Linked DNA regions of Homo sapiens. The protein of the gene in region 2 purifies or fractionates together with the protein of the main gene of each other region. This does not show direct contact. Each region holds a gene or a part of one and is shown on either strand. Other genes may lie near its edges.

The links.
Region 1: the proteins of ETFBKMT (region 2) and HSPD1 purify together in Homo sapiens (affinity purification with mass spectrometry; 4 studies listed by BioGRID and IntAct, with this or other methods). This does not show direct contact.
Region 3: the proteins of ETFBKMT (region 2) and CLPX purify together in Homo sapiens (affinity purification with mass spectrometry; 2 studies listed by BioGRID and IntAct, with this or other methods). This does not show direct contact.

What each region holds. Positions count from the first base shown.
Region 1 is NC_000002.12:197,486,198-197,489,950, reverse strand, and holds the end of HSPD1 (60 kDa heat shock protein, mitochondrial), read left to right. Parts: intron 1-703; coding exon 704-949; intron 950-1,459; coding exon 1,460-1,634; intron 1,635-1,914; coding exon 1,915-2,093; intron 2,094-2,752; coding exon 2,753-2,905; 3' UTR 2,906-3,367; downstream 3,368-3,753. UniProt on the Homo sapiens protein: Chaperonin implicated in mitochondrial protein import and macromolecular assembly. Together with Hsp10, facilitates the correct folding of imported proteins.
Region 2 is NC_000012.12:31,657,741-31,661,493, reverse strand, and holds the start of ETFBKMT (electron transfer flavoprotein beta subunit lysine methyltransferase), read right to left. Parts: upstream 1,807-3,753; 5' UTR 1,705-1,806; exon of another isoform or gene 511-1,704; intron 1-510. UniProt on the Homo sapiens protein: Protein-lysine methyltransferase that selectively trimethylates the flavoprotein ETFB in mitochondria. Thereby, may negatively regulate the function of ETFB in electron transfer from Acyl-CoA dehydrogenases to the main respiratory chain.
Region 3 is NC_000015.10:65,157,743-65,161,495, forward strand, and holds part of CLPX (ATP-dependent clpX-like chaperone, mitochondrial precursor), read right to left. Parts: intron 1,010-3,753; coding exon 833-1,009; intron 169-832; coding exon 4-168; intron 1-3. UniProt on the Homo sapiens protein: ATP-dependent chaperone that functions as an unfoldase.

The DNA.
Region 1 (3,753 bases), on a different chromosome or scaffold from region 2:
GGAGACAGTGTCTTGATCTGTCTTGACTATTCTTGACTTGATCTATATTGACTATTCTTATTGACTTAAATCTGTGGGGTTTCTTTTTTTTTTTGAGACAGGGTGTCTTGATCTGTCACCCAGGCTGGAATGCAGTGGCACGATCTTGGCTTACTGCAACCTCCACCTTCTGGGTTCAAGCAATCCTCCCGTCTCAGCCTCCCAAGTAGCTGGGACTACAGGTGCAGTACCATGCCCAGCTAATTTTTTTACTTTTAGTAATGACGGGTCTCACTGTATTGCCTAGGCTTCTCAAACTTCTGGACTCAAGCAATATGCCTGCCTCCGCCTCCCAAAGTCCTGGGATTACAGGCATGAGCTACCGAGCTCAGTTTTGAAAGGTAGAAGTGTATGCTACAAGGGATGTAGGACTTGAGAGTCAAGGCCTATGGTCTTGTCCTGGCTCTACCAGTAAGTGTGACCTTCGATGTTTTTTTCTCAAGTAAGGCTGGTAATAATTACCACAGTTGTGAGAATTGAGAATTTGGAAATGCAGTGAAAGAGACTATACTCAAGTCTTGTTCTGGACTAACAGTGATCTTAAAATCTCTCATTTCAAAGAAATAAAGTATTTTGATGATTCTCTTGCATGGTGTATTAATAAACTTGGTATAATGGCAGAAACTGTAACCTACAACAGGTTTACGTTTAACTCTTTTTGTAGGTGTTTGGAGAAGAGGGATTGACCCTGAATCTTGAAGACGTTCAGCCTCATGACTTAGGAAAAGTTGGAGAGGTCATTGTGACCAAAGACGATGCCATGCTCTTAAAAGGAAAAGGTGACAAGGCTCAAATTGAAAAACGTATTCAAGAAATCATTGAGCAGTTAGATGTCACAACTAGTGAATATGAAAAGGAAAAACTGAATGAACGGCTTGCAAAACTTTCAGATGGAGTGGCTGTGCTGAAGGTAACATTCATTATTATGAATAAGTTTCTTGGGTTCTGAGTCCAAGAATGATTTTGCTTCTGTAGTATTCCCCAGTAGTACCATAGAACTAAACGAATACTTGAGGAATTAACTTCATAGTGGAATTTTGTTTGTTTTGTTTTGAGCTCTTCGTCACCCAGGCTGGGATGCAGTGGTGCGATCTCGGCGCACTGCAACCTCCGCCTCTTGGGTTCAAGCGAATCTCCTGCCTTGGCCTCCCGAGTAGCTGGGATTACAGGCACTTGCCACCATGCCTGGCTAATTTTGTATTTTTAGTGGAGACAGGGCTTCACCATGTTGGTCAGGCTGGTCTCAAACTCCTGACCTCAAGTGATCCACTCACCTCAGCCTCCCAAAGTGCTAGGATTACAGGTGTGAGCCACCACGCCCACCTCAGGATTGCTTTTTAAGTAAACTGCTTTTAAATGACTTGGCAATTAGCATCTTGAATGAAGAGGCCATACTAACTGGAATTCTTTTCGTCTTTAGGTTGGTGGGACAAGTGATGTTGAAGTGAATGAAAAGAAAGACAGAGTTACAGATGCCCTTAATGCTACAAGAGCTGCTGTTGAAGAAGGCATTGTTTTGGGAGGGGGTTGTGCCCTCCTTCGATGCATTCCAGCCTTGGACTCATTGACTCCAGCTAATGAAGATCAAAAAATTGGTAAAAAGTTACCTTTTAAATGAGTTTGTGGCCTGATTTTAGTTTTTCTTAGAATAATAATGTTGCAGTCCCCTAAATGGAATAGCACATTCATTTCCTGAATAACAGAAGTAGAATAGTGCTAATGTCAGAGCTAAACATGCATCACATCTTTTTCAGAGGAAATGATTTGATCTGTAGTAGGATTGGGATTTCCCTACATCAATATCCTCACAACTTATAAATGTGTTACAATATTTACAAATGAAAGTATTAAAATTTTGCTGAAATTTCTCTGTAGGTATAGAAATTATTAAAAGAACACTCAAAATTCCAGCAATGACCATTGCTAAGAATGCAGGTGTTGAAGGATCTTTGATAGTTGAGAAAATTATGCAAAGTTCCTCAGAAGTTGGTTATGATGCTATGGCTGGAGATTTTGTGAATATGGTGGAAAAAGGAATCATTGACCCAACAAAGGTAAATGGTTGAACACTTTCTAAAAATTCTTTTGTTGTTCATTTTGTTAATGTATCCTCACATCCCAAATCTTTGATTTTGTCACCAGAAAAATAGTCTAATAGCAGTAGCAACAGCAATAGCTCTTGTGCCCATCAACAATTCTCATGTACATTTCCAGCACCTAGATATTTAATACTCCACTAAAAGGAAGCAGGATCCCTTGAGTAGCAGTTGAGTCCATGCCTGGAGGCAGGAAAAAATCAGGATGGATCTGGAACACCCTGTTCCTGCCTGGCAGTAAGAATACTTTCCAAGATACGCAGAACAGGGTTTTGTTTTGTTTTGAAGACAGAGTCGCTGTGTCGCCCAGGCTGGAGTGCAGGCAGTGACAACCTCCACCTCCTGGGTTCAAGCGATTCTCCTGCCTCAGGCTCCTGAGTAGCTGGGATTACAGGCATGCACCACCATGCCTGGCTAATTTTTGTATTTTTAGTAGAGACGGGGTCTCATCATGTTGGCCAGGCTGGTCTTGAACTCCTAACCTCAAGTCATCTACCTGCCTCAGCCTCCCAAAGTGCTGGATTACAGGTGTGAGCCACCATGCCCAGACAGAAATTTTCAATAAGTCTTGCTCATATTTTACTAAGGGAAAACTAATTAATTAAATTTTTTTCTAGGTTGTGAGAACTGCTTTATTGGATGCTGCTGGTGTGGCCTCTCTGTTAACTACAGCAGAAGTTGTAGTCACAGAAATTCCTAAAGAAGAGAAGGACCCTGGAATGGGTGCAATGGGTGGAATGGGAGGTGGTATGGGAGGTGGCATGTTCTAACTCCTAGACTAGTGCTTTACCTTTATTAATGAACTGTGACAGGAAGCCCAAGGCAGTGTTCCTCACCAATAACTTCAGAGAAGTCAGTTGGAGAAAATGAAGAAAAAGGCTGGCTGAAAATCACTATAACCATCAGTTACTGGTTTCAGTTGACAAAATATATAATGGTTTACTGCTGTCATTGTCCATGCCTACAGATAATTTATTTTGTATTTTTGAATAAAAAACATTTGTACATTCCTGATACTGGGTACAAGAGCCATGTACCAGTGTACTGCTTTCAACTTAAATCACTGAGGCATTTTTACTACTATTCTGTTAAAATCAGGATTTTAGTGCTTGCCACCACCAGATGAGAAGTTAAGCAGCCTTTCTGTGGAGAGTGAGAATAATTGTGTACAAAGTAGAGAAGTATCCAATTATGTGACAACCTTTGTGTAATAAAAATTTGTTTAAAGTTAATAATTGTGTTAGCATTTCCATGATTAGAAGATACTGAAAATTGAAAGCCAGTTGAAGGGCAGGCTGGCATGTGTGTAAAACATTATCCTATCTATGATATTTTCATGTTTCTCTTTGTTGCAGACTGAACTACATTATTCCATTGATAATGGGGAAAGACAGTTTCTATTTTCCCCGGTGCAAGGATGTAATCTCTCTTGGAGCTGTAAAATCTGGGAGGTTGGAGGGAACTCCAGCTCCTCAGCATGGCCTTTGGGCTGCTGCTGCAAGCAAGGCATTGAGGCAAATATTTTTGCTGTCCTTACCTTGGACAGAAGTAGAGGGGAGAAATAAAGTCCATCATCACATGAAAAGTCAGTCACTTGAAATCCTGTACCTAGAATACC
Region 2 (3,753 bases):
CATAAAAAAAAAAAAGAAATAAAATATTACAGTGTATATTACTGTATCTGATGATTCACATGTGCAAGTTCATTTCAGATGAAAGCTTTGGTGCATCAATTGGGAAAATCCAATCTTTTTAAATGATACTTTTCACAAGAGAATCCTTTTAGTAATTTAACACAACAAATATACAAGCATTTGATTTTGAAAGAATCCTCAAGAAAATGCCTCTTACAGGAAATCAGCCATACAGTCATCCTTCAGTATCCTCAAGTGATTGGTTCCGGTATCCCCTGCTTCCAGGATACCACAATCAGAGGATACTCAAGTCCCTTATATAAAATGGCATCATATTTGTATATAAACTAGGCATATGCTGTGGTATACTTTACTTTAAATCATCTCTGGATGACTCATAATACTTAATACAACGTAAATGCTATATAAGTAGTTGTTACACTATTTTTGTGTTATTTTTATTGTTGTAATTTTATATTGCTATATTGTTATATTGTGGGCCAACTGTACCTTTAAAGTTCTTTCATAAATTTAACAAAGTAGGCATGCTTGGTAACTGTGAACAAAATAACAGAAGTCTTCTGTCTTCAGGAAGCTTATATTCTAGTGGTGGGATAAAGCAGTTAACAGGGCAAACACAGTTTTTGCCTTTATGAAGTCTAGCCAAGAGTTCTGGGGGTTAATGAATTTATAATTGTCTGTGGGCAGAGATATATTAATACAAATTATATTGACTACTCTATTTCATTAAAGATTGTTGTATCATAAAACAATGCAATCAAGATTCAGGTTTTTTCCTTTAAAAATACTGTATGCATTTAATTGTAATAAAAGAACATCAACTCCTAAATCTCTTTCTGTAAAAGTATCTGATGGTTCGATTTTACCAAGCCTAAACTGAAAAGATTTGCTCCAACAGAAAAACACCTGTGCAATTGATCACTAAGATTTGTTTAAAAATATATATATATAGAAAAACACCCGGATTAGAATAAATGAGAATGAGGAACAACTTAAACACAACTTATACACCCAGTTGTTTGGGGACCTCGGATCTCTTCTGCATAAATGTTTTAAATGGTCTTAAATCCACTAAAGTATTTAGGGGTCAAAAATCCAAATCCCCACAAGGGGCTGGACATCATAAATGAGTGATGCAGGCTGGCTGTAAAATAACAGAGGGGCTGTGGCAAGCTGGAGACTGTTTTCAAACAGTTCAAAAAGGCTAGGCAGGACATGCTGCCAGATCCTCCGATTTCTCAAAATCATCAAAAAAATCTAGATATTGACACATTAGCTTCCACCTTTTTTTTTTTTTTTTTTTTTTTTTTTGAGACAGAGTCTCTGTTGCCCAGGCTGGAGTGCAGTGGCGTGATCTCGGCTCACTGCAACCTCCGACTCCCAGGTTCAAGCGATTCTCCTACCTCAGCCTCCCGAGTCCTGGGATTACAGGGGCGTGCCACCACGCCCGGCTAATTTTTGTATTTTTTTTTTTTTTTTTTTTTTTAGTAGAGACGAGGTTTCGCCATGTTGGCCAGACTGGTCTGGAACTCCTGACCTGAAGCGATCCTCCTGCCTCGACCTCCCAAAGTGCTGGGATTACAGGCGCGAGCCACCACGCCCGGCCAGCTTCGGCTTGTAAACATCAGCAACTCATTCAAATATCAAAACACAGGGCAGGTCAAAATGCATGTCAGGTCATACATAGCCTGTGAACTCAGCGTAGACTTCCAGTGGGTGTTAGTTACCCCACATCAGTGTCCTGGGATCGTAGGGGTCTCTCAGGGCCTGGTATCCCACTAGACTAATTGTTAAGCAGTACTAGGCTGTCACTTGAATCACACAACGCAGCCTAAGTTTAAAGGTAACGCAGAGCAAATAGAGATTATTTGGGATTTGGACCCCATGTCATTTAGATCGGCGCTTCCCTCTCCCGTCCCAGCACCGATGAGGCATGGGTTATGAAGTATGTGACTGTGGTGACCACTTGGTATTTCTCTTAATGAGAAGGAGAGCTGATGGGATGAAAAGAGTTACGTTCCACAACGGGTAGACGGCGGCGTCATTTTCCTCCAGAGGCGGGGTGGAGTCGATCTTAAAGGGGCAGGCACCGTCCTCCCTGTCTCCTTACCTAGCTTTGCTGACACCGCCCTCGGAAGTAAAGCATAGGGCTCGCCTGTCACTCGCCCTGGCGACTGTTCCCGCTCATGCTTTACATTTCCGGGGTCCCGCTACCAAAACTGAGCCACGCTCTAGCAGAGCGCCGCGGCCCGGCAGGGGGCGGGACGGACGGCGGCCCCTCGCGGCCCCGCCCTTTTTCCCAGCAGCGCTTTCTTTCTCCTCCACTTTCTTAAAGGGACAGAAGCGCGAAACCAAAGGGCGCCCTGACCTCACCTGGAAAATAAGGGAACGTTAAATCTGTGTGCAATGTTTGTAGAATTTTGATTCCTAAAAAGTTCATTCTGAAACTATGCAACACCTACTATGTGCCAGTCGCACTTCCAGGCACCGGGCATAGAGTGGTGAGCAAAATAGACACCGTATATTTAAAAAAAAAAAAAAAAAAAGACACAGTATAAGCCCTCTGTGCTGCCTACATTCAACTGCGATTAAATCATAATGAATGTCCTTTCTTTTCTAATAATTCATAAATTCACTAGCAATTTATTTGCAGCCTATATCACTCGAGTCTGGATCTACATATATCCACCTTTCAACTGGACCCACATCCCACTGGCCCCTCAACTCAACACTCAAAGTTAACTCACCATCTGACCTGACAACAATTAAAACCTGCTCTGGCGTGCTAGAGGGGGGAAAACGGTCCAAAACTAAGAAACAGGAAAATCGTGTTTCTGCATTTTAGTTTGCAGTTTGAGAAATGCACTGGCACCTGCCTGTTCAAAATTAGAATTTGTCGCTTGGGTTCTGCGCTCCTGCCATGGGTGTGACAGCTTTCTGTCTTTCCATGTAAACTGGAATCTTTAGGAACTACTACAAGGAAAGGAAACTTTGTGCTTCCAGTCAACAGCCCCAGATGCAGCCTTATCATTTCTTTCTTAGTTGAATGGTGTATTTGCTACATTCTTGTTGATAAGCTATACACCTTGCATTTCACAGTATTCTGCCTTAGATTTCCTGTGTAATAACTGATATAATGTGTTTATGAACTGCATTCATCCACTTATGAGCTGCTTTTTTCTTAATTAGTTGCTGATGTAAACGCTTGTTTTCTCAACTATAACTTTTCATTACCACACACTCTCCGATTCTCCTGCTAGCAGTGAACCTTGATCCATGTTCAAGATCAATTTCTATAAGAAATATTGTTTTTAACCAGCTTCGGTGTTCTATCCCAATTAATAGTTTGAACATCCCAGTCACTGCCCAAGAAACCAGAACGAACAGGCTAACCTAACATTTTTACAAAAGAGGGTTGGTTCCTGGAAAAAAGCTTGGTAGTCATCACTGAAGATGCATTTAATAATGTTTGGATAACTCATTCAAAACTTGCAACTTGGCTGAAGGGACTGCAACATGCCTTTCCTGTCCCATAATGGATTTAAAACTGGTCCAGTTCTTTCTATCCCTCCTGCCATTGCCTTAGTTTGGCATTATAATGGCTTGCCTGGGTTCCTATAACTTGTCTATCTCTAATTCTGCCTTCCTTAAAACTATTCTTTTTTTTTTTTTTTTTTTTTTGAGATGAAGTCTTGCTCTGTCGCCCAGGCTGGAGTGCAGTGGCATGATCTC
Region 3 (3,753 bases), on a different chromosome or scaffold from region 2:
TACCTTGTTGTGCTTTTTCCACATTATAATTGGCATCTTGGAGTAGTTTTGCAATCACAGATTCAATATCTTCGCCTACATATCCAGCCTGAGTCAAAGTTGTACAGTCACAGATAGCAAAAGGGACATCAAGGCATTTAGCTAGGGTTTGTGCCAGCAGAGTTTTACCTACAAATAGAAACAGTCACTAAAAGTTTACTGAAAATATATTGGCACACAATTTTTCAATAAAAATGCAAAATAAATTTTAGTAGTATATAATAAAAAGTTGTCAATTGCTACATCCTTCCTCTGCTATTATTTTTTTTAGAGACAGGTTCTTGCTCTGTCACCCAGGCTGGAGTGCAGCCTGTGATCATGGCTCACTCCAGCCTCAATCTCCTGGGCTTAAGTGATCCTCCTGCCTCAGCCTCAGGACTACAGGCATGTGCTACCACGCCCAACTAATACTTTATTTTTTATAGAGATAGAGTCTTGCTCTGTTGCCTAGGCTGGTCTCAAACTCTTGGCCTCAAGTGATCCTCCCACCTTTGTCTCCCAAAATGCTGGGATTACAGGTGTGAGCCACTACATCCGATCTATTATTATTTAGATATAGCTGTTTTTTATTTTATTATTCCTGTGAAGATGTTAGGGATTGGCCTGAAGGGCAACACCAATGCCTCAAATCCAGTTTGTATTCTATGCAGGAATACTGATAGTGTATCTAGATGACTGGCCTTAGATTTTCTTCTCAAGAGCCGTAATACTTCAATCGCAAGATACAGGTTATAGAATCATTTATATTCTGATTTTTAAAATGAGTAGTAAATTTTCTCAGCAAGTTATTTACCTGACCCAGTTGGTCCAAGCAGCAAAATATTACTTTTTTCAAGTTTTATGTCATCATGAGAAGAATCCAATACTTCACCTCCTCGTTTTTCCTGAGGTATTTGTTGATTTACCTGTTGCTGCATTGATGCTCCTAAAGCATTACCATGTGGGCTAATTCCAGCAATCTGAAGCAATTCTGAAAAAAATGCCAAAGGAATTACTTGAGCTTCATTTGAATTTACTTGAAGAAAATGTCCCATAAAAACTTTTATCTAAAACTAAATATCGACATAGAAAAATTTAAGTATTTTGACATTCTGTCTTACCTACAAAGGAGAAAAATCTCAAATTATCTAGTGACAAACATATAGCACACAATGATTATATAAAGAACCTCAAGCAAAGGAAATTGATTTTTTTTACTGTCCTTATTTATATAAATATGTAAGAATACTCCTTTACCCAAGGGAAGGCAATACAACAGAAGAGCAGAGCCAGGAGTTAGAAAGCTTTAGCTCTGGACCTTCCTTTGTCTCTAAGTAGAAGCTACATGATCTAGGGCAAGTCATATAAACTTTATGTTCCTGTTTCCTAATCAATAAAATCTACTAGAGAAACCAAATATGATACACCTTACTATCTCTGGCCCTATCTAAATCTCTAATTTTATTGGACCTGTACTGGATCTTTCTATTTCCTTTATTAGAGACATAACACTTAACTAGATGTGACTGACATTGCTAATGACTAGATGGGACTGACATTGCTAGTGAGGTTATCAGTTTATCAGCCAGATTCCTACAAAAATAAATCTTTAGGCTAGGCATGGTGGCTCACCTGAGGTCAGGAGTTTGAGAACAGCCTGGCCAACACGGTGAAACCCCATCTCTACTAAAAATAAAAAATTAGCCAGATGTGATGGCACGCGCCTATAGTCCCAGCTACTTGGGAGGCCGAGGCAGGAGAATTGCTTGAACCCGGGAGGCGGGGGTTGCAGTGAGCCAAGATCACGCCACTGCACTCCAGCCTGGGCAACAGAGTAAGACTCTGTCTCAAAAAAATAAAATTAAAATAAAATAAAACAAAACAAAATAAAAATGAAATAAATAAATCTTTATTCTCACTTTCTCTTGGCTGAAGGAAAGATTATCCAGATTTGTAAATATTCAGATTGTTCTTGGTTCTTAGCATTTGAGTACCTGTTATCACAACATACTTGTTTATATTTCCTGAATTTATTTTTACATTTTCTTTTCTTTTTTTTTTTTTTATTTTGAGACAGAGTCTCTCTCTGTTGTCCAGGCTGGAGTGCAGTGGTGCAATCTCAGCTCACTGCAACCTCCGCCTCCTGGGTTCAAGTGATTCTCCTGCCTCAGCATCCCGAGTAGTTGGGATTACAGGCACACGCCACCACACCTGGCTAATTTTTGTATTATTAGTAGAGACGGGGTTTTGCCATGTTGCCCAGGCTGGTCTTGAACTGCTGACTTCAGGTGATCCACCCGCCTCAGCCTCCCCAAGTACTGGGATTACAGGCATGAGACACCGCGCCTGGCCTAAATTTTATTTTCTAAGAAATTGATTCAGAAAATCAGACTTTCCAATGATTATTTTAATTAAACTGATAGAATAATAGTTTGGCAGACATATCTATTATCATAGTCCTATTCCATCTGGCTGTCACTTTCAAACTATCTTCATACTTAAGGTAAAGGGTTATTCTATTCATCAAAAACAATAAGCATTCCATAAACATCTGGATTAAATTGTGCTACCTTTGAGGGTTAATAATTAGTGAATAATTCACAATGTTGTGCCTCATTATAATCCACATCAGCCAAGAAAACTCAGTCTGCTGTATGAGGATAGTTAAATTGTCACTAGCAAAGTACTTTTTAAAATTTCAGCAAAATCTGGTTAGGGATTGTGATAACATAGGAAGGGGCTTGGGTTAAGTTTAGCTCTGCCCAAAGGGAAAAAATGATTTAGATGTAGCTTCAGATCAGCAAGGCCAGCAGGTGCTTGTCATTCACTCATTCTCTCTCTCTCTCTCTCTCTCTCTCTCTCTCACACACACACACACACACACACACACACACACACGATTTAGATGAATAAATGAACAAAATTGCAAGGGGCATATTAATTACAGTGGAACCACATAATCTATGTATTTAACTTATTTAATGATTTAAGTTTAAAAAAGAAATAATTTAAATGATACAGATGATATCCATCATCCCATTTTATGAGTATATGCCTTAGAACAAACTTGAGACAACTCTCCGATTCTTTCAGTTAGTCCCTGTTTGTGCATCTCTCACTGTGTAAGCACAGCTCTCTAAAATGAGGACCATGAGCAAGCAGGCTAGTGTAGTAGTTAGCTGCACAGAGCTCACCAGCTGTGTGGCCACGGACAAATTACTTAAAATTTCTGTGTTTCAGTTTTCTTACTTCTAAAATGGAGATAAAAATAATAGTTTCTGTCTCATGGGTTTAGGGGAGATTAAATGAATATATGCAAAACACTTAGAACAATACCTGGCAGATAGTTTTATAAGTGTTACAGAAGAATCTGGTATTATTATTACCATTTCCCTAGTGTTTAATTATTCACACAACACAGCCCTTAAACGCAAACAAAGTATTTCATCTGGTGCTCAACTTAAAAAACAACATTATATTCCAAAGATGGAGAAAAAAAGCCAATTGTGTCAGTCCTCCTAAAAGCTGTATGTTGGTCTCTAAAATTTGACTTCCAAAGGGACTTATAAGAATTAATCTTATTGTACATGATTTTGGTCTAAAACCCTAGACCAGTGTTAGGGTCTAACACCCCCAGCCAGTGTTAGTTAACAACCTAACTTTAGAACTTAAAATCCCATGTAAAACACAACAAAACTGCACATGACAATAAATTTAAGCTTTTGAAATATTTGT